Linked DNA regions of Homo sapiens. The protein of the gene in region 2 purifies or fractionates together with the protein of the main gene of each other region. This does not show direct contact. Each region holds a gene or a part of one and is shown on either strand. Other genes may lie near its edges.

Region 1 (7,000 bases), on a different chromosome or scaffold from region 2:
CCCCTTTTTTTTTTTAGCTATACTTGCTGGAGTGGGCGGAAGACCCCTTTTCAGTGTGCCAGGTATGGGAGTGCAGAGATGAAGGCACAGTGCCCAGCCTAAAGACCTTCATAGCCTGGTAGGGCAGCCATATAAACGGATGGCAGCCACGCAGAGAACAGAGAATGAGGTAGTTACATGCGGGTGCCTGGGGGGCTGCTGCAGGAGCCCCCAGAAGGCGTCCCTCTGATGGGGTGGGAGATCCAAAAGGGTTTCTGGGGGGAGGTGAGGATTGAGCTGGGTCGAGAGGACATTCCGGCCTGGAGAACTGCCACACAGAGCCAGGCGTGTTCCAGGAATGGTGAGGGGTTAGGTGTTACTAGAGCAGGGGGCCACGTGGTTAGTGAAGGAGGAGAGCTCACTGAGGGCATGCGTGCTGGCAGCAGGTGGCTTAAGCAGAGGGCTGACATGGTCGGATTTGCCTTGCTCTGGGAGGTGGATGGGAAAGCCGTATGGCAGCAGATAGGGAGGAGGCGCCAGCAGTGGGGATGATGGTGGGCATGTTTGCAGTTGACATGGAAAGTGCTGGGTTGTGGCTTGGGCTGGGGGCCAAGAGGGCTGAGTCCAAGGCGGTTTGCCTGCCCACCACTACAGCAGGGGCTACACGAGGTGGTCAGGTCAGGCAGGACAAGGGAAGGCCCGTTTTGGACAAGCTGAGTCTAGAATGTCTCTGGGGACATCCAGGAGCCAATGTTTAGCAGGAGGTTAGGTATGAGTCTGGGCCACAGAGAAAACCCTTTCGGGGATAAGAGTGGCTGGGAGGAAGGTATAGGGTGTCAGCTGAAGAGTGCAGACCCCAGAGGGAGCAGAATAACAGTGGGAGGAGGGTGTTGCGAGGGGACCTCAGGAGGGTAACTTAGCAGCAGAGCAAGGAGTTCAGGGTGACCTCCGGCCTGGGCGGTTAGGAGGCCACTGGTGGCCCTGCTGCTGGCTTGGAAGGGCAGGCCTTGGCCAGCCTAGGTTGAGGAATATATGGGAGGGAAAAGACCAGGGGCTTGGGCAGGGTGACTCCAGGAAGGAGGCAGTTGAAGGTGAGGTTCCTGGGGGGAGAATGATCCCGGGTCATCCAGCAGGAAGAGAGAGGACCTAGAAGGTGTGAAAAAGAACTATCGGGCTGGGGGTGCAGTGGGAGGAGTATGCCCGGGGTGCTGTGGGGGTGGGGAGCGCCTGTGAGGGTTGGCAAGAGGAAGGGGAACCGGGGCCTGGCAGAGGGGAGCCCCAGACTGTCTCAAGGCTGGGAACTGAAGGCCTGGGCTGGGGCTGAGCAGGGCCAGGCTTTCGGACACACACAGCGTGGATCTTGCGCTGGACTTTGTGTATGCCCTGGCCTATCTTGGAAGCCCTGGTTCTCAATAGCCGGGAAGGGCCTGGGACGGTCCGAAAAGAGCTGGGCCTCTGCTGCACTGCCGCGGAAGCATTTGTGTTAGCTATCTCCCTGGGTACTGGGGTGACAGCCATGGGCACTCACCAGCAGCCGCTTGCCTGGCCTGGTGGCGGGGAGTATAGCCTTCAGTCTTGCTTGGTCCTCTCTCTACCACCAGGTGGCATGACCCCCACCCCTCAATTCCAGCTGGGAGGAGCGGTCCTCTTCCTCTTTCTACATCACTGGGATCCGCTCTGGGGCTGGGCAGCTCCTTGCCGGGGGCCTGGGTCTTAGTCAGACTTGCCTTTCTTTCTAGGCCTCTCCATTGACTTCTGGCCATGCCGATGTGAGTCAGATGCATTGTTTCTCTCTGGCTCCTAGGGCGCTCAGTAGCTTCCTCCACCTTCAGGCTGTAGCCCAGTGCGGGGCAGGCTGGTGGGCAGCTGGGGGCTGAGGCAGGGAAACCTGAGCCCTAGGCCACGAGGTCCTGGGCCGCTAATTTTAGAAAGCACATGTCACTGGAAACTCTCCTTCTCTGCCAGGAATCAACGGCCTGGCTCTCCTGGTGCTGCCAGGGGCCCCTGGGAGCCTCTCCCCAAACCAGGAACCTCAGGGGTGTCTCCTGGCCCGGGTGGGTACTTTCTGTCCTGAGTACATCTGGAAAGGGGCTCTGCCGAGGCCCTGGAGAGCCATGGCTTGGGCCAGGGAGGTAGCTCACCTTGTCTGCTCTTTACTTTCTCCAGCCCTTCCGGGCTGCCCCTGGCCATGAGCAGAGGCTGTGAAGTGTGAAGGCCTGGCTGGGGCAGGAGGCCACTTCGACTCTTCTGAGTAAGCTGTTGTTGAAGCACTCTGGACTAAGCAGATTTGTCTCTTCCTTCCCCCAGGCCCTGTGTGACCCTTGCCTTCTGAGGTGTGTGAGAAAGGAACCCCTGCCTTGTTTTGACTGTTTGAACGAGTCCTTCCCTCCTCTCTTCCTGCCAGCTAACATCTCGGGGCAAGGGTGAACCAAGGGAAATGAAGTGGCCATTCCAATCTCTGTTTGGGGACTAGCATCTGCCTCCAGCTGCCACCTGTTTGCCTGTCTCTCCTGGCTGCTTCAGAGAGGCAGCCTGCGCCTGTGTCCTGATTCCTCTACACCCTCCAGCCCAAGAAGACCTCATTCGGGGTGCTGTTACATAACGGATGTGTTCCAGCGCAGCCTGCATGATGGGTTGGGAAGGAGGCTGGCCAGAGAAGAGAGTTCTATCTTACGTTGGGACCTGGGAGCTGTTCCCTGTTAGTTTAGAGAGCAGAGTGGTTCCGAGCTCAGGTTCTGGAGTCAGGCAGACATAATTTGGAATTCCAGCCATGTCCATTTCTGGTTTTTGGCCTTGGGTACATTGATTTACGCTGCTGAACTTCAGTTTCCTCTTCTATAAGCTGGGGCAGTGATAGTAACTTCCTCATCAGGTAGATGTGAGGATGCGGCCTGGCATGTTGGAAGTGCTTGGATTGATTAGCTTCTCTCGTTACCTTACCAAGGCAAGCCCAGCCTCGCAGGGAGGAAGGTGGTGCTGTGGCTTGTCTGGCACGTCTAGGCCCCGACCCGGAAAGTGCCGCGTTCTGGGACCTCATGCTGTAGCGAGGCTCTTCCCAGCCCCCCAGGCTCCTGCTTCCAGCCCCTCTGAGAGCTGAGGGTGGCCGTTGGGCACAGCGGCAGAGGACGGCTCCTGGGCCCCACCTTTTCCCTCACGCTGCCAGCACCAGGTTGGCGGCTTCTCACTCGGCTGCCTTGGCAAGAGGGCAGGTCCAGGCTGGAGCTAGGTGTGGAGTGGGAGCAACCAGGAGGTGCTCCTGCCAGCCCTTCATGCTCTTTTTCTCACTTCTCCCTTCTTTTTGTAAATAATTGCAGCCTGCTTAGACGCCTGGTGACTCTCATTTCGCAGCAGGCCACGCTGCTGGCCTCCAATGAAGCCTTTAAAAAGCAGGCGGAGAGTGCTAGTGAGGCGGCCAAGAAGTACATGGAGGAGAATGACCAGCTCAAGAAGGTGAGCCCAGCTTCCCGACCCACCATGGGGCGTCCTGGTGTTACACTGTGGGAGCCACATTCTTCAGGGCCTCAGTGGCCACTGCTAGCCTGTCACGCTGGGAAATGTGCCTGAAAAGCCAGAGTTGGGTGGAGGCGCAGAGGGGAAGTCCTCAGTGGGGAGAGTATGCCTGCTGGAGGCGTCTGTGTGTGAGGGTCCGGGTGAGGAGGAGGGTGTTGCTGCTCTCGTTTCCATCCACTGCTTCCAGTTAGACCCTTCCCTGAGAAAAATGGCCCCTCAGTGAGCCAGGCCCTCTGCTGTGATCCGAAGGCCCTCAGCTAGGCCCTTGTTCCCTGCAAGATTGCCGCACCCCCTCTGGAACTCGGGGTCTGTGGCATCCCTCAGTGCTGGAGAGGAGGTGGGGGCAGGGTAGTTGGCCAGTCTTAGACGTCCCGTCAGGAGGTGAGCTGCAAGGCAAGCTCGGAGGGATGTGGATGCAGAGGTGGGATAGAGCTGGCCAGGCCGACTGGGGGCTCCTAACTGCAGTGAGCGGCACCATGTAGGGAGCACGAGGCACCGCCATCTGTGGAGGGGTTGGTGAGCACCATGGAGCTGCTGAGCCCTGCTGCTTGGGAAGGAGGCAGGGCCAGGGGCCAGGGGCCAGGGGCCAGGGCAGGCAAGGCGTGCCCGGCGAGCTGCAGCAGGTGGCCCCGCTGGCGCTTCTCTTTCCCTCGGCGGGCAGCCACGCCCTGGCCTTTGCCTAGGAGCTGGGAGCAAGTGGTGGCTCGGTTCCGCGTTGACATTTCCGAAGGGGCGTGTGGCCAGGGCAGCTTGAGGAACCGCAGCTCGGTGGGGAGGATGGGGCTGGAACCTCTCCCTCCCTCCCTCCTGAGTAACCCTGGCCTTTGGCACTTTTCCCAGGGAGCTGCTGTTGACGGAGGCAAGTTGGATGTCGGGAATGCTGAGGTGAAGTTGGAGGAAGAGAACAGGAGCCTGAAGGCTGACCTGCAGAAGCTAAAGGACGAGCTGGCCAGCACTAAGCAAAGTGAGGCTCGACCTCGTGTCCTTCCCCGCAGGGAAGTCCAGAGGAGCCTCCTCTGCCCGCTGCTGCCCATTTTGTGCCAAAGTATTAGTAACAAGCCTTGCACGCACGCTCGAGGGCTGGCTGAAAACAGACCAATAGCACCCTGCGCCTCCAACCCCAATGCAGCCATGCTTAGCCGGCAGGCCAGTGAGGCTAAGTGGTTTGAATGGGGCTCAGGAGGAACCAGGCTGCAGTTGGTGGGCCTCGATTGCCCTGCACTAGAGCAGTGCATGCTGGGGCTTTCCCGTCCAGAGTGTGGCACGGTAGCCCCAGCATGCCTGGGGGCTGAGAATGAGGGGAGTGTGGGAGTGGCGTTCAGGAGGGGAGTGGGCGGCTCCCAAGCGGCCTGCCTGTCTTTGGTCTCCCACGCATAGACTTAAGTCTGGGGCGTTTTCCCCCAATACCACAGGCCTCGCCTGCTGCTGCTGTGTGCAAGGCGTGGTTGTCATTGGGTCTCGCTTGCAGGCTGGGATCTTGCTCCCTGTCTCCCACTCTCAGCCTCCCTGGAGGTTACCCTTGCCGAGAGCCACTAGAGTTCCTCTCCATTAAAGGGACTGGGGGATGGCCTCTGTGTTTCTTTTGCTTTATCTTGAGCTTTTTTGTCAGCCCTTTCCCTCTACTTTGGGGGCCTGCAAAAGCAGAGGGGCTTTATTTTGAGAAGTAGCCTCCTGTATAACCTCGTTTGAGATAGATTTGGGCCAGTTTCTGGTGTCTGTAGCAGTCGGGTTTTTTCCCCCTAATTCCTGTCTTTTCGTTTCTGTTTTCTTGGTCATTTACATCATTTCAAGAACTAGAGAAAGCTGAAAACCAGGTTCTGGCCATGCGGAAGCAGTCTGAGGGCCTCACCAAGGAGTACGACCGCTTGCTGGAGGAGCACGCAAAGCTGCAGGTCAGCCCTCCCGTATTGCTGCGCCCAGGGCAGGAGAGCAGAGCAGGATGAGGCAGCCCCTGCGGGTGCGGAGGGAACCTTCCAGGGGCCCAGGGGCTGGCTGCCCTCTCCACCACTCCCCCTGGCCACCTCTGCCCTACTGAGTGGGACCCTTCACCGGGCAGGAGGGGGGTGGCCTGGCAGCAGATGTAGGCACTTGCCAAGGCGGCCCTCAGGAGTGGCACTGGCTCACTAGGCTCTGAGCCTTCCTACCTTCGTGCTCAGGCGCAGCCATGGTTTGGGGCCTGGTCAAGAACAAAGAAGCAGGTGAAACTCTGGGACCCACTGCTGGCCTTCTTTCCTAGGGTGCTGGGGAGTGACGTAGGGCAAAGATCCCTGGGCAAGTGAGGGCACAAGGTGTCAAAAAGGCACCTTCCCTAGCAGGCGCTAGTTGTGGCCATCACCTGCTGCCCTAGGCCTGATCTGAGTCCTCAGACTAGCTTGGGTGCACCAGGCCGCATCTGGAAGCCCAGGCGGTCTTGACGTTGGGAGTGAGGGCCACATAAATACTCCTAACTTTGGACAGCTGGCCTCAGTGCTTGGTGGCCCAAGTTTGGGCACCACAGCAGGTGGGGAGGAAGGGTCCAGCCTCAAAGGGGGCACCCATGCCCTCTGTATGGGGCAGGCTTGGCAGATGGGCTTCGAGGGCACCTGTCAAAGGTGTGCAGAGTTGGGAAGGGTCTGATCAGGTCTTGAAGGGGACTGGATGCCTTGCTGTTCCCTGCAGCCAGGACTCAGCCCCCAGTGAGGTCCTGGCAGTCCTCCCTGGCTGGCGTTAGGTCCAGGGCTTTCCCTAGAGCGTGGGCCAGGGCTGACGCTCCCACCCTGGCAGGCCTTTGGGTGCAGCTGGGGAGGGGGCCCCTTGTTCACTTGAATAGCTGTTGTTAGGAGAGAGGGGAACCGAGGTGGACCTCTGGGGCATGGGGCTGGAGGTGGCAGGGGAGGAGTGGACCCGGCCAACCTACTGCTGTGGGATTTCTGTCCCTTTCCAGGCTGCAGTAGATGGTCCCATGGACAAGAAGGAAGAGTAAGGGCCTCCTTCCTCCCCTGCCTGCAGCTGGCTTCCACCTGGCACGTGCCTGCTGCTTCCTGAGAGCCCGGCCTCTCCCTCCAGTACTTCTGTTTGTGCCCTTCTGCTTCCCCCATTCCCTTCCACAGCTCATAGCTCGTCATCTCGGCCCTTGTCCACACTCTCCAAGCACATTACAGGGGACCTGATTGCTACACGTTCAGAATGCGTTTGCTGTCATCCTGCTTGGCCTGGCCAGGCCTGGCACAGCCTTGGCTTCCACGCCTGAGCGTGGAGAGCACGAGTTAGTTGTAGTCCGGCTTGCGGTGGGGCTGACTTCCTGTTGGTTTGAGCCCCTTTTTGTTTTGCCCTCTGGGTGTTTTCTTTGGTCCCGCAGGAGGGTGGGTGGAGCAGGTGGACTGGAGTTTCTCTTGAGGGCAATAAAAGTTGTCATGGTGTGTACGTGGTGCGGTGTGTGACTGCAGCTGTGGGGAGGGCTCTGCTTTCTCTCCTGCCTGGAGCCCCCAAGCGGCCACAGCCCTTCAACCTGTTTCCCCCACTGAAGGCCAGG
Region 2 (8,032 bases):
GAGTAAGAAGAAAACCGTCTCTTTAAAAGCTGCTATTTAGGTAGCTGCCTTCATGGCAGATAAATCTTTTCCACAGGTTTGGAAAATATCAAAGATGCATCTGTTTCATAATTACATGGTGGCTTTCTACCTAATGAATGCCTGTGTAGGCTGCTACGTTAAGCATACAAAGAGGATAGGAGAAGAAAGTTACTTCGTATTTATTTTTCAGGCTTTTCCTGTCTGTGTTCTCACTTCGTTATTGTGGGGTTTCTGCAGACTGAGTCCCTGTGGAAGAGAGGTTGTGTCCTGCTCATTGTGGTACAGCAGTGGCTTAAGGGAGAACTGGAGCCCTGACTTCACCCCCACCCCACTCCCTTTATTTGACCTGGGATTAAAAAAAAAAAAAAGACAACTTGCATTTCAAGGTGAGTTAGCTTCTGATCTTAATATAACTTATTTTCCTTCAGGAAAAAAAATGCTAAAATCAAGACAGGGTACAAGCGGGAGCACATTAACCTGGGCTGCGACATGGATTTCGACATTGCTGGGCCTTCCATCCGGGGTGCTCTGGTGCTAGGTTACGAGGGCTGGCTGGCCGGCTACCAGATGAATTTTGAGACTGCAAAATCCCGAGTGACCCAGAGCAACTTTGCAGTTGGCTACAAGACTGATGAATTCCAGCTTCACACTAATGTGTAAGTGTACATGGGGGCAGCAGGGTGGGAGGGGTGGGGTTGGAGCATGTGTGGTAAGGGGATTGCTTTTCACTGTTTTTTTTTTTTTTTTTTTAAGAAAGCCCAGTTTTTAACCACTGTAAAGTGAGTTTGTTGGCATTAGATGAGCCACATGGCCTGCTGCTATCTTTTGTTTCCCACCTACCCATTTCCTGGAGTGTCTTAGATCCTTTCCACTCTGTGAACAGTATATATTGCCACAGGTACACAAAGTGGCTGATTAATTACAGCAGGGACATGGTGTCAGTCCAGAGCGTGTCCATTCCCTGCAGTTTTTGTTTTAGTTAACAAAACAGCTCTCTTTCTCTGTCTAATGCCTGAGGATTAGCCTGCTGGGCTTGATGACATGTAGACATGGTAGACAAATTTAGGAGCTGATTATCTCAGTTACAAACTATCTTCTCTGTACAGTGAAGCATGTAAAAGTAACTATTGGACAGTATGGTGAAGGGAAACAGTGATTATAGGTTAGGAGAGAGCCCCTTGAGAATTGAAGTAGATTGATGATTTAAGTTAAGGGAAACACATTTCATTCATGAATCTTGTTTTATCCATAAACCTTGTTTTATTTAGTTTCATGAGGAATTAACCTGTGACAGGCACAAGCTGGGTGCAGAGTTACCATGTTTATTTCTTTCCACTAGAGGTCACTAAAGAAGTAACTTCTTAAACTTAAGGCAAATCAGTGATATTAATGTGTAAACTAATATTTCCATTAATAAATTTTTTGAGGAATTTTTATCATTAATTTGGAATCTGTTACAGCTAAAAAGTCACAGGAAAACTATAGAGATGGACAATCTAGTGGTTGGCAGGGGGCGGGGAGGGTATGACTACAAAGCAGTGACTGAGGGAGTTTCGGGGAGGGAACTGTTCTATATTCTGACTGTCGTCATGGTTACATTAATCTGTGTACGTGTGTTAAAATTCGTAAAAATGTATACCAAGAAAATATCCATTTTGGCCGGGCGTCGTGGCTCACGCCTGTAATCCCAGCACTTTGGGAGGCCGAGGCGGGTGGATCACGAGGTCAGAAGTTCAAGACCAGCCTGGTCAAGAAGGTGAAACCCCATCTCTACTAAAAATACAAAAATTAGCTGGGCGTGGTGGCGGGTGCCTGTAATCCCAGCTACTTGGGAGGCTGAAGCAGGAGAATCGCTTGAACCTGGGAGGTGGAGTTTGCAATGAGCCGAGATCACGCCACTGCGCTCTAGCCTGAGCAACAGAGCAAGACTCCGTCTCAAAAAAAAAAAAAAAAAAAAAAAGCAAAGAAAATATCAATTTTATTATATGTTTAATTAAGAAGAGGTGAAACATACTAAAAAGCTATAGGAAACATACCACATGCATAGAAATGTTTTTGAACGTAGAATTCTGATTGGCATGGGAAGTGTTTTCCTTGGTTTGAAATTGGGCATTGGCACCAATTCTTCAGTACCAATTCTAGGAGGAACAATGGCTGTTAGCCATTTCCCCCACATATCTGAGCTTCAGCATTTTAAATAAGCAACAAGTGGGTATGGTTTATTTTTGGAACCAGCGTGAAGGCAGCTGACACAACTCATCTGGGTTGCCCTGGTGCTTGCAGGGGCCCAAATGCATAACAGAAATTCTTTGTGCTTCATATAGATGAATTTGAACAGTTCCACCTGTGTATTTATTTATTTATTATTATTATTTTTTGGTGACAGGGTCTCACTCTCTCACCCAGGCTGGAGTTCAGTGGCACGATCTCTGCAGCCTCCACCTCCCGGGATTAAGTGATACTCCCACCTCAGCCTTGCAAGTAGCTGGGACTACAGGTGCATGCCACCACACCTGGCTAATTTTTGTATTTTTTGTGGAGGCAGGATTTCGCCATGTTGCCCAGGTTGTTCTTGAACTTGTGAGCTCAAGCGATCTGCCCGCCTTGGCCTCCCAAAGTGCTGGGATTACAGGTGTGAGCCACTGCATCTGCCTTCTGTTTATGGTTTTGAAAGCTCTGTACAGGAAGGCAGTATTGTGTTCCTGGTTTTAGGATATTCTGAAAAGTCTGGCCTTTTTTAAAAACATGTAAGCCCAAGAAACTTCCCCATTTGAATATATTACTAAAGTCATTCAAAAATCTTATTTTTGACAGGCTGCTGTTTTATTGTAGCATACTTGGGCTGTCTACAGAAGACAGGATTCTCTGTGAATCAGGCAGTGCCTGGGTCTCCCTGTACTTTCTAGAAGCATAATGTCTGTCTCGCTGAATTTCATGGGGAAACGAAAATTTACAATGTGTGGCTCATACGTGTAATCCTAGCTACTTGGGAGGCTGAGGCGGGAGGATCACTTGAGGCCAGGAGTTTGGGACCAGCCTGGGGAACATAGAAATACTCTGTCTCTAAGAAATTTTTTAAAAATTAGCTGGGCATGGTGGCAACATGCCTGTGATCACTTGAGCCCAGGAGTTTGAGGTTACAGTGAGCTATGATTTTGCCACTGCTCTCCAGCCTGGGAAACAGAGCAAGATCCCATCTTGGGGAAAAAAAAAAAAGAAAATTTAGAATGTATTCTCTGATTTAGGGAGAGTGTCTTGTGAAGACTAGAGTTTTTGTTCTTAGGTCCTGAAGCCCTTTGCTGGATTCCAAAGTACGTGGGCTCTGACTCACAGTTAACCAATGCCATTTCCACTGGAAATGCCCACAATGATGAGGCAGAACTCAGACACTGATTTTATGTTAAAGATGTTTGAGAGGGTCTAGGCAGGCTTGAAGACCATCTGATGCAAGGAGGATGGTCATTCCTTTTTAAAAAATTGCAGCATTAAAATTTTTCTTAATTTTTTTAATCAAAGGAGTCTGAACCCATGGTTGTAAAATCAAACAGTACAGATGGGCCTATGAAAAGCAGTGATTCCAGCCTGCCTCAGCCTGCTCATCCCAGCTCCGCAGTGGCAGCCACTTTAACTGTTTTTGTTTTCTGTGGTTCCCTCCATGGAGAAGGTTGCTTCTGACCAGGCACCAGTATGCACTGTGTGTATAAACAACAATCTGAAAGCAGTAATGAGAGACAGTCTATGATCTGTGCCGACCCCAGCCCGACAGAGGACAAAGTGTAGACTCTGAGCTCTTCGTATGCCTTTTTAGGGGTGGCAGTGACTGCAGAGTTTGTATAGGCTGTTCAGCTGGGTGGGGCAGACTTTCAAATTCTGAGAGCTTAAGCAGGGCCCCAAAAGAGGAAGAGGAGAATTTGAATGACTGAAGAAGGGAAAGGGATATTCCCAGCAACTGGAGTCATTCAGTGTGTTTGTAAGAGAGGAGGGAGCTTGGCCAGCTGGGGTTTCATTCTGAATGTTTTTGAAAGAGGGAGACATTTTATGATGTAGCAAAAAGCTCCCTTTCAAATCCTGCCAGGCTTAGATGTTGCAGCATGGGTGAGGAGTATGCACAGGTGGACGAGATGAATTGTGGATTAAGCTCTTTTGAAGTGCTGCTCCTCCAAGAGGCTGGGTCAGTGCCAACTGTATCTCCCCAGCAGTGGCTGCAGCAGGTTGTGCCAAGGGCTCTAACTTGCCTTCTGAGGCATATGTGCAGCCCCACCTTTCTTGCCATTTCTGGCTGTGTTCTCTTCTCATTTTCTTCTCTTTCCATAACATTTTTTATTTTTACTTTTATTTTTTGAGCCAGAGTCTCACTCTGTCACCCAGACTGGAGTGCAGTGGTGAGATCTCAGCTCACTGCAACCTCTGCCTCCTGGGTTCAGACGATTCTCCTGCCTCACCCCCCCAGGTTGCTGGGATTACAGGCACCTGCCACCATGCCCAGCTAATTTTTATGTTTTTAGTAGAGACAGGGTTTCATCATGTTAGCCAGGCTGGTCTCAAACTCCTGACCTCAAATGATCTGCCCGCCTTGGCCTCCCAAAGTGCTGGGATTATAGGCATGAACCACTGCACCCGGACTTCCATGCCATTTTTCTGGTAGAATCGTTTATAAAAGTAATAACATCAGTAGCAGTAAAAATAAATCACTCAGAATCTCAGTGCTCTACTTGCTGCTTCTTTTTTTTTTTTTTCCTTATAGAGACAGGATCTCGCTCTGTTGCCCAAGCTATATCCTGGGCTCAAGCAGTCCTGCTGCCTCGGCCTCCCAAAATGCTAGGATTACAGGCGTGAGTCACCACGTACCCCCTCTCCCCTGGCTTTTTCTTTTTTTGTTTGAGACAATGTCTTGCTCTGTTGCCCAGGCTGGAGTGCAGTGGCGCGATCTCGGCTTACTGCAACCTCTGCCTCCCAGGTTCAAGCGATTCTCCTGCCTCAGCCTCTTGAGTAGCTGGGATTACAGGCGTATGGCACCAGCCCGGTCAATTTTTGTATTTTTAGTAGAAACAGGGTTTCACCATGTTGGCCAGGCTGGTCTCAAACCCCTGACCTCAAGTGATCTGCCCATCTCGGCCTCCCAAAGTGCTGGGATTACAGGTGTGAGCCACTGTGCCTGGCTAGGTGCCTGTTCCATACTTATCAGACTTCCTGTAATTTAGTACCTGTTTTGTGAAATTTGGTGAACTTCTGACTTCCCTTAATACCAGTATTGGTTCAGTCCATTTCTGTCATCCCTGTCTTCTGGGAGACTTGGGTGGATCTGTCTGGGCTGCAGCTCACCTCCCTGGGAAGCTCAGCATCTGTCCTGTGCTTGTTTGCAGGAATGACGGGACAGAGTTTGGCGGCTCCATTTACCAGAAAGTGAACAAGAAGTTGGAGACCGCTGTCAATCTTGCCTGGACAGCAGGAAACAGTAACACGCGCTTCGGAATAGCAGCCAAGTATCAGATTGACCCTGACGCCTGCTTCTCGGTGGGTATCTGTGGAATCACGCATCTCACAGGCAGGCCCATCTGCTCTTTATGTTGGAATCCTTCAGGTTTGCTGGAGTGCTGTGCTTCAGCTTACTCAAAGTGAGAGATGCTGCTGGGCGCCGTGACTCACGCCTGTAATCCCTGCACTTTGGGAGGCCAAGGCAGGCAGATCACTTGAGGTCAGGAGTCTGACACCAGCCTCGCCAACACGGTGAAACCCTGTCTACTAAAAGTACAAAAATTAGCCGGGCATGGTGGCGTGTGCCTGTAATCCCAGCTACTCGAGAGGCTGAGGCAGGAGAATTGCTTGAACCGGGGAGGCGGAGGTTGCAGTGAGCTGAGATCGTGTCACTGCACTCCAGCCTGGGTGACAGAGTGAGATTCTATCTCAAAAAAAAAAAAAAGACTCCGTCTCAAAAAAACAAAAACAAAGTGAGAGATGTTCTCACTTTGAAAAGAGTGCCAAATGAGTACAGTGATCATACTACTAGTACTTCTTATGGGTACCAGGCACTGTGCAGAGCCTTTTGTGTAGATTACTGTGTTTAATCCCATTTGAAATAGGTGCTTTGGTTTTTTAATCATCTCTGGGTTTTTTTTATTTTTTGTTTTTTTGAGACAAGGCCCAGGTTGGATGCAGTGGTGTAATTGCAGCTCACTGCAGCCTCATCCTCCTGTGCTCAAGTAATCCTGCCACCTCAGCCTCCCAAGTAGCTGGGACTATAGGCACACCAGCATGCCTGGCTAATTAAAAAAAAATTTTTAGTAGAGACAATGTCTCACTCTGTTGCCTGGGCTGGTCTCAAACTCCTGGGCTCAAGCTGTCCTCCCACCTCAACCTCCCAAATGTTGGGATTACAAGGCATGAGCCACCATGCCTGGCCAATCATCTCTGTTTGTTTGTTTTTTTTTTTGAGACGGAGTCTCCCTTTGTTGCCCAGGCTGGAGTGCAATGGCACGATCTCAGCTCACTGCGCAACCTCCGTCCCCCAGGTTCAAGTGATTCTACTGCCTCACCCTCCCATGTAGCTGGGAACACAGGCACCCACCACCACACCTGGATAATTTTTGTGTTTTTAGTATAGACGGGGTTTCACCATGTTGGTCAGGCTGGTCTCGAACTCCTGACCTCAGGTGATCTGCCTGCCTCGGCCTCCCAAAATGCTGGAATTACAGGCATGAGCCATGGCCCCTGGCCAATCATCTCTGTTTTTACAAATGAGGAACTAGAAACTTAGGTGAGTAACTTGCTCAAAGGTACACAGCAGGAAAGTGCTGGGAGCTGGATTTGAACCAGACTGGCTTACTGTTAAGCCTCTTCCATTAATACCAGTTCCTGTTCTATCATGCGGACTGTTAAAAGGGGCACTCTGAAATCTAGGGTTCTAATTGATAATTCCCCCCGCCCCGCCTCACTTTTCATTCTCCTTTTCAGCTCCTGCATTGCATATTAAGAAATCAATAGTCAGTTGGCATCTTGCAGAGTCTCTGGCATTGCTCACAGGCCCTCGAACTACTACACAGTTTTTGCAGTAAATCCTATTGGGCTCATTTCTGTTGTCACAGGGCACTGGCGGCTGTATCTCTTTGGGGTGAAATGAGGGAATCTCATGTTGCAGAATGGTGTCTGTACTGGTTTGTGTAATTTATGGACAGCCCTTTTTAAGTCTCCTAAACTAGAACCGAATTTGGCTCCCTTAACAGCAAGCACTTAAAAACAAGAGAAAAGGAGCCTCATTATTTATATGAGCAAAAGGACACTGGCCCCTAAGAGGCCTTCCTTCTCTCTGCTTTGTTCTTATGAGGGGTGTCAGATCTCAGCACACCCTTTGAACAGAAAGGTATGCACCTAAAATTGATGTATTTTGTATTGAATTTAATGAATCTCATGAACAAGGTGGTCATGAAAAATTTTGATTCTAAAGTCCAAGGTTGGTTGACTAAAAAGCTCTAATTTTGGAGATGGAAGTGCAAAGTATTATACTTAATGTTTTCTCTGTTTTGTCATTTCCTTGATTAGGCTAAAGTGAACAACTCCAGCCTGATAGGTTTAGGATACACTCAGACTCTAAAGCCAGGTATGTGTTGCTTGTGTGTGAAATCGGTTCTTTATCTTAAAAAAATTGTGGTGCTGGTTTGCTGATTTATGTCATTGCTTATAAAATGTTTATATAATACAGTGGGTATATATAAATGGATATATGTAAAGTATAATTAAATGTTTATAAAGGAGTATGGGGTCATTATAAAACATTTGGAGAATATGAGATGTAGCAAGCAGGAGGAAAAAGGCTGAGGCTAACACATATTCTTTGCTATTTTCTTCCATCCTTTTTTCCAGTGTGGACATAATGCTTGATACTTATTTCTGGCAGATTCTCAAAACTAACTTATAAATCAGCCCCACTGTAAAAAGACAAAGAAATAGGAAAAGTGGTTTGCAGGTTTCCTCTGCACAGTTGGCTAGGCCAGTCCACGGCGTATTATAGTTCTAG
Region 3 (7,844 bases), on a different chromosome or scaffold from region 2:
AATTTTTATAGAGTTGAGCTTTCAACTCTGCTAATCAAAGAATAATCCTTGAGATCAAAGAGACAGCAAAAGAGTGTTGTAGAAAACAGACATTAATAAGAAACATACCAGGCACAGAAACAGAAGAGAGATTCCATTTTTTAGACTTAAGTTAATCAATTCTCATTGAGCACATACTTTATACAAAGTGTCAGACAAGTGCTCAAAGGAGTAAAATGGGTCATTAGTGAATTTTCACCACAGAAACTACTTTCGCTCACTTTCCTCTACTTCAGCTCATTATCCAAAATACATTGCTGCATATTATATTAACCTTGTTAAACATATTAAATCTGTACCTTCTTAAAATGACAGGAAAAAAACATACAAGTTTTGACTTAGTATACCTCTCCTTAATATTTGACCCTCATTCTTCACTAGTAATAGAAACAAAAAATGTGCCTTTCTTGTATTCCCTATCTCTATCTGAAGCACAAGCACCCAAGCCATGAAACCAGACAACATCCTAGATTCCTTCTTCTCTTTCTACCTCCAATTTAATAGGAAGTCTATTCAGCTTCTTAATAACCCATATTCAGTCCCTCTGATCAATCTCACTGACACCGTCCAGATTTCCACACTCGATTTTGCTTCAAATAGTTTCCTAATCTTTAGATCATGGACCTCTTACACAATTTTTGCCTCATCTGTGCCCTATAAGAATCATAGTTATTATTTAAATTTATTTTTAAAAGAAACTTGGTATCAGCCTCATAAATAAACAGTATCACTTTCCATATATTAAAAAATAAAATAAAATGAACAAACAATACAGTTACTAAATCCTAGAAACCCAGGAGTAGATTGGGGGGATACCCTGGCTCTGACCTTCATTCTCTTCAGCCTTCCAGTATCAGGAGATTACAGAAAAGAATTAATCCTTTACTCCTTTCCCAAAAAAATTGCATCTCAGTTTAACATTTAAGGATGGCCAGACACAGTGGCTCATGCCTGTAATCCCAGCACTTTGGGAGGCCAAGGCAGGAGGATTGTGTGAGCCTCCGAGTTCAAGACCAACCTGAGCAACACAATGAGACCTCCATCTCCACAAGATATTTTTTGAAAATTAGCCAGGCATGGGTGGTATGTGCCTATAGTCCCAGCTACTTGAGAGGCTGAGGCGGGAGGATTGCTTAAGCCCAGGAGTTGGAGGATGCTGTGAGCTATGATCGAGCCACTGTACTCCAGTCTGGGCAAGAGTAAGACCCTGTCTCAAAAACAAAAAAAAATAAGTTTAAGGATAACCAAATAGCCCTAGTTGATGAGCAAAAGCTCATTTGTACAAAAGCATGGCAGCCAATCATAAATGTTAAAAAAAAATTAGAAAAATAACCTCTTTGCAACTCCTAATAAAATAACTGACTCAGGCAAGGATGCTAAAACACACAGGTAAAAGGTTAATGGGAAACTAGATATATAGGTATGATTTCTAAGTATTACCCCAATACTCACTTGCTCTTACAAGGGGGAAAATAATACTTTCTAATATTATTTACAAGCTGTCACCTTTACTCAATTTAAGTACTACCAAACATTATTGGCTTCCTTATATGATGCTATATGAGATATACAAGATCACCTATAAAGAATACTATAGGCTGGGCATGGTGGCTTGAGCCTGTAATCCTAGCACTTTGGGAGGCCGAGGCAGGAGGAGTGCTTGAGTTCAGGAGTTTGAGACCAGCCTGGGCAACATGGGGAGACCCTATCTCTATACAAATAAAAAAGTTAATTAGGCATGGTGGCAATCACCTGTGGTCCCAGCTACTTGGGAGGCTGAGGCAGGAGGAGGATTGCTTGAGCTGGGAAGGTCAAGGTTGCAGTGAGCCATGATCGCGCCACTGTACACGAGCCTGGGCTACCAATTGAGACCTTGTCTCAAAAAAAAAAAAAAAAATCATATTCCTCCCTGCAAATGTTTAACCTGAAATTAATCTATCAAGATCACCTACAAAGTATTCTTTCTCCCCAAAATGTTTAATCTAACCCAATCAAAGCTTTTAGATATAATTTCCAGTTGACAGAAACTACGAGTTAGAAGGCAAAAGACAACCAGAGGAAACAAGTCAACATATATGGGATGCTACAGGACAACAGCCTGGCCTCCTCTCTTCAACAAGTCAATGTCAAGAAAAAGACGGCTGGGCGCAGTGGTTCACACCTGTAATCCCAGCACCTTGGGAGGCCGAGGCAGGTGAATTACCTGAGGTCGGGAGTTTGAGACCAGCCTGGCCAACGTGGCAAAACTTCGCCTCTACCAAAAATACAAACATTAGCCAGGTGTGGTGCCAGGCACCTGTAATCCCAGCCTGTAAAGTAGCTGGGACAGCTACTTGGGAGGCTGAGGCATGAGAATCACTTGAACCCGGGAGGCAAAGGTTGCAGTGAGCTGAGATCGCATCACTGCACTCCAGCCTGTGAGACAGGTGAGACTCTGTCTAGAAAAAAAAAAAAAAGAAAAAGGGGTGGAGGGAAAATGGGTTATATTCTAAATTCAGAATATAGAGAAAATTAAATTTGGAGAAAACTAAAAGTCCTAATAACTCAGAGCACAGAGGACTTTTTGGGCAGTTAAACTATTTTGTGAGATTTTATAATGGTGAATACGTATCATTATGCATTTGTCAAAACCCATAGGATGTACAACACCAAGAGTGAACCCTAATGTAAACTATGGATTCTGGATGATACTGATGTGTCAATGTAGTTTCATCCATGGTAACAAATATAACACCTCGTTGCAGGATGTTGATGATGAGGGAGACTGGAGAGGGGAGCGGAGGTCCTAATAACCAAACCTATAACAGTCTATTGCTTTTGATCGAATCTTGATTTCAAGGAGCAGTTGGAGGACAACTGAGGAAGTGTGAATGTGTATTAGATGATAAAGAGGAACTTCTATTAATTGTGTTATGTTGATGACATATACTATGGTTATATAGAAAAGTATCCTGAAATTTTAGAGATGCCTATTTAAGTATTTAAAGGTGAAATATCCTGATATTGGTATTTACCTTAAAATATTTTTTAAAAAGTAAATACGGCAAAATTACTTAAAGTGTTAAGTCTGGGTGTTACAGACTGCATGTCTGCGTCCCCTCAAAGTTCATATATTGAACCCTAACCCCCAAGGGAATGGAATTAAAAGGTGGGCCTTTGGAGATGACTGGATTTAGATGAGGTCACAAGGGTAGAGCCTGCATGATGAACAGGGTGGGACCGTATCTCAAAAAAAAAAAGAGGAAGAGAAGTTTCTATTAGAGCTTGCTCTATCTGCTTTGTGAGGATAGAGGCAGTTTCGCAAACCAAGAAGAGGACCCTCACTAGAATCTGACCATGCCAGCACCTTGATCTTGAACTTCCCAGCCTCCAGAACTGTGAGAAATAAATTTCTGTCATTTAAACCACCCAGTCTACTGCACTTTATATGGCAGTCCAAGCAGACTAAGACATTAGATAATGCATATACAGGTATTCCTTAATAGAACTAAAGAGAGTAACTGTATCAATATTAGTATGAGTCCTACCTAAAATACCTCTTCCTTCACTTGCAGAAACACTGGATTAGATTATTCCAATTGCCTCAGTGTTCTTCCACCCTTACCCAATCCAGTCCAATCTCCGGAGAAAAATATGATCACATCACTAGCCTGCACAGCATTCAATCAACCACCTCTTTAATGGGGAAAAGTGTAAATTCCATAGTGTAGCCATATAAGGCTTTTCGAGATCTGCCCAGACTCCTTGAGCCACTCTATATATACTTCACTCATTTAAAACTCAGCGACAATCCTACAAGTAGGTGAAATTATTATTCCCTCTTTACAGATAAGTAAAGGGGAATATAAGTAAATAACTTGCCCAAGACCACACGGTTGGTAAGTGGCCCTGCTTGACTTTAAATTTTGACAGTCTGATATATCCATAAACCAGATAAATCCATAATTTTAACCACAATATTATTCTGTGCCCGGTACAGTGTAGGTGCTCAATAAATGCTTGCTAGATGAGTAGTGTGGAAGAGCTTAGCTCTCCTTTTTCACCTGATCCCAAAAGAGGAGTGAATCCTAACCACCCTGTTTCTCTTAAGAGTCAAGTCAAGTAAGAGCTGATGACTGTTACTGGCATTGCCCGGGCGTCTAGTATTGCAGTATCCCCGCCCCTGTGAGGGGTGCAAAACCTTTTCTGATTTCATTTCTTTGGTGGTGGGGATCGGACTGGGGAGGAATGAGGGGTCGCAGAACACAGGCTGCCCGCTGGGCCCGGGGGCTGCGGGGAGGGACGGCTCTCGTGCGCTGAGTAGTTGACTCGCCCACTGCAGACCTCAGAAGCCTCACGACCCGGACCCCGGGAGCCCCAGCCCCGCGCCCTCAGCCCCGCGTCCAGGACCTGATCCTGGATTGCCAGGGGCCCTCCTGGGAAGACGGGGCCACTCCGGGCCCACTCACCTCGTCCCGGCACTGCTTCTGGCACATCTGGCAATACCAGCGTAGCTTCTGCAGCCCCTTGGACTTGATCCTGTTGGCGATAGCCTTGGGAGTAAGAAAATCCGACTTCCCCATGGCGACCACGGCAGCGATCACTTTCTGGACCCCAGTACTCAGCCAGCCGGAAACGGAACCGGGCTGGCGGCGGTGGGCGGGACAAATCCCAGCTGAGAGGCGGAAGGAGGTGGGGCCTGGGAAGACTGGGTTGCAACGGTCGCGAGACTCCCCTCGCCGTAGCGCGAAGAAACGAGACTGAAGAAGAGAGCAAGGTGGGAGGGGCGCGCTGGGGAGCTTCGGCGCATGCGCGCTGAGGCCTGCCTGACCGACCTTCAGCAGGGCTGTGGCTACCATGTTCTCTCGCGCGGGTGTCGCTGGGCTGTCGGCCTGGACCTTGCAGCCGCAATGGTATGGCAGCTTGCGGGAAGATCGGCAGGACCGCAAGGGATGGAAGAGCTTGGGCACGGGGCAGGGAGGAGGAGATGGGCGCGGGGGCAGATGTGGGGTCGCAGGGCCTAGCTGGGCCCCTGGCCCGTCGGAGGCGCCGGGTAGCGGGGGCTGCAGGAAGCGGCTCTGAGGTCGGGCAAGGTGTGCGCAGGGCCGGGCTCCGGCGGAGCAAGGTCCCGCCCGGTTCCCTGAGGTCGGAGGGCCACCTGGGACCTCGGGACTGCGGCCTGAGTCCAAATTGACGTCTGGGCGGTCTTGAGTTCCCTCAGCTAATCAGCACTTCCTGAGCTTCCACTTCCACTGCAAGCCAGGCCCCCAGTCTCAGGGCCTGCAAGGTGACGGGAGCCTGAGCAATAGCCCAGGGGAAGGTTAAGTCGTGCTTTTTGTCCTTGACGCCCTTTGAAACCCTGTAGTGCTGGACAGAGTGACCCTTTAAGATTCGATCGAGTCAGAGAGCGCGGCCGTCGAGCACCTCCCGTGTTGCAGACGCTTTGCTGGGTGCTGCAACAGCAAAGGCGAACATCCTAGATGCCTCTGAGGGTGGTTTTGGTGCAGAAGGGACCGTACAGATCTGTCTGAGGGCGGGGAAGGGAAGGACACCTAGCACTACCTTGAAACCACTTGCTGAAACCGTAACCCTGCAAGGTCATGAAATTGCCCCCAGGTCCTGGGGGAGGAGTTCGGTGGGCTTTTAAGTGGCATTTGTTAACTGACATGCAACTAAAGGGTGCCACGAGCCTCGAGAATTTTAAACATTAGTTCCGGGTAGGGGGACCTGGGCTGGGGGAAGTGCATATTAGAAGGCCCGGGAATGGGCAGGTAAAAGTTGGTTTGTGGGTGGTGCTGTTCAGTTTTGAAGCTTGACGGAATCTGGAAGAATTCCAGACACGCTGCTAAGGGGATTCTAGGCTGTGTCGTAGCAATTCCCTGCTCTTAACAGTGTGGAGGATTTCTAAGGCGCTACAGTGCTAAACTAGATTTTCGTATCCTAATTTATATGAAGGGACCATAAAGCATTAGTTGAAATAAATAGGTTTTTCATTAAGCAAATAACTGATAGTAATATACGAGATTTTCAGAATGATATCTGATGTGAATTAGCCACATAAAATTTTTGGTGGCTTGGCCTTGGAAGTCAGATTTTTTTTTCTCTAATATGGAAAAAGAACATTCATGGGAATTAAAAGGTCACTGTAGTTGAATTCTCAGTTGTATAGATTGTCCCACTTGTTAACCACTCAGCAGACATTAGCTGAGTGCTTCCACTCCACCCGGTGGTACTTGGAAAGTGCCCAAATGTGATGGTGAGCAAATAGATAAGGTCTCAGTCAGTTTCCTGGGACAGTGCCTGGCATGCAGTGGTGCTCTGCGAACATCAGCTCTCCTGGCCTTACCTTCTTGCCACGCATTAATGTTATCTGTCAGTATTTTTACAACCTTAGTTTCTAAGTTGATCTTTAAAAAAGTGGAAATAGTTTCTGAAACAAAGACAATATTTTACAAAAAATTTTAGAAATATCTTTTTTTAAAGCACCTGTAAGATAATTTGAAGCTCTTTTAGTGAAGGATTGTTTTAAATAAGAGCTCTCAGTTCAAGACAACTACTGTTAGGAGCTTAAATCGGAACCACAATCAGCATATAAAGGTCCTAATCCTGACCTTAATCCCTTTGGAATATTGGTTTTATAAATCATCAATCAACAGTGTTCCACTATGAAAGCATATTCTGTCTTCTTCTTTTCATGTATTCCTTCACTGCTGGTGCTTAATGTCTTTCCTTCCTCTTCTGCCATTTCTCTTTCCATGAATTATAATTGCCTTTTGAATTCAGAAATTAAAACCACTCCACAGAATTAATTTGGAAGGGGAAGAAAAGACCTTTGTCTTAACGAACCATGAAGAGGCATATTTCCATGCTTCTGTCTTGATTACTGGAAGTTTTTTAAAGTACAATTTGTTATTTTAGTTTTTGTTTTCAGAGAGGCTACCATGCTAACATAAAAACATTAGGCTTACTTAAATTCACAGTGGTTATTTTAATAGTTGTTAGGGTATCGGCAAAATACTCTAACGTTTTGAAAATTAAACCTTTTTTTTAAAGCAGCATATAAGAAAATGGAAATTAAAAATTTGAGAGAAAGAATCCCGGATTTTACTGTCTTCAAATTTGGGAAAAACATTTCTATTTCTTAGAGTTCAGTAGTCTCTAAAATGGAACTGTTTTTTAATAACGTGTCAGTAGTCATAAACTACAGATACCGATAAGGAGATGGCATTTCAGGAGAGAAAAGACAAATTGTCATCTGAGACCATGAGGGCAGATATTTACTAATAAATGTAAAAAATGTGAGGCAGCAGAGTGTAGTACTGTATGAAGAGAGAGACTCTGTAGCCAGCCCTGAAGGGCTGCATTCAGACGGCAGGGATTGAATTCTGATTGCCACTTAGCAGCTCTGTGACCTTGGGCAGGTTACTCAGTGTCTGTCCCACCAGTTCCTCATCTGTCAAATATATGCAATAAAAGTGCACAATTCAGTGGGTTAGTGTGAGGATTAGAGTATTTGCAAAGCATGTAGGACAATGGGGGAAATGCTGATAGGGATCCAAATGCTGTATATCAGTAGAGAAATGAAGAGTTTTTAAGTACAGTTTCTACATCAAATGTAATGTAAGAAGATTGCTTGGACTTGCGAAAAGAGGAAAAGAAGATGCAGTCGGGCTAGGCGCAGTGGCTCACGTCTGTAATCCCAGCATTTTGAGAGGCCGAGGCGGGCGGATCACAAGGTCAGGAGATCAAGACCATACTGGCCAACATGGTGAAACCCTGTCTGTACTAAAAATACAAAAATTACCCAGACGTGGTGGTACGCACCT

Evidence for each region.
Region 1: the proteins of VDAC1 (region 2) and BCAP31 purify together in Homo sapiens (affinity purification with western blotting; 3 studies listed by BioGRID, with this or other methods). This does not show direct contact.
Region 3: the proteins of VDAC1 (region 2) and ATP5F1C fractionate together in Homo sapiens (co-fractionation; 3 studies listed by BioGRID, with this or other methods). This does not show direct contact.

The regions. Positions count from the first base shown.
Region 1 is NC_000023.11:153,700,388-153,707,387, reverse strand, and holds the end of BCAP31 (B-cell receptor-associated protein 31), read left to right. Parts: intron 1-3,293; coding exon 3,294-3,429; intron 3,430-4,329; coding exon 4,330-4,453; intron 4,454-5,280; coding exon 5,281-5,381; intron 5,382-6,412; coding exon 6,413-6,451; 3' UTR 6,452-6,896; downstream 6,897-7,000. UniProt on the Homo sapiens protein: Functions as a chaperone protein. Is one of the most abundant endoplasmic reticulum (ER) proteins.
Region 2 is NC_000005.10:133,973,374-133,981,405, reverse strand, and holds part of VDAC1 (non-selective voltage-gated ion channel VDAC1), read left to right. Parts: intron 1-211; exon of another isoform or gene 212-258; coding exon of another isoform or gene 259-300; intron 301-407; exon of another isoform or gene 408-449; coding exon 450-677; intron 678-5,384; coding exon 5,385-5,535; intron 5,536-7,557; coding exon 7,558-7,615; intron 7,616-8,032. UniProt on the Homo sapiens protein: Non-selective voltage-gated ion channel that mediates the transport of anions and cations through the mitochondrion outer membrane and plasma membrane.
Region 3 is NC_000010.11:7,783,333-7,791,176, forward strand, and holds the start of ATP5F1C (ATP synthase F(1) complex subunit gamma, mitochondrial isoform L (liver) precursor), read left to right. Parts: upstream 1-4,844; 5' UTR 4,845-4,875; coding exon 4,876-4,931; intron 4,932-7,844. Other genes in the region: KIN (DNA/RNA-binding protein KIN17), read right to left, coding at 4,488-4,601.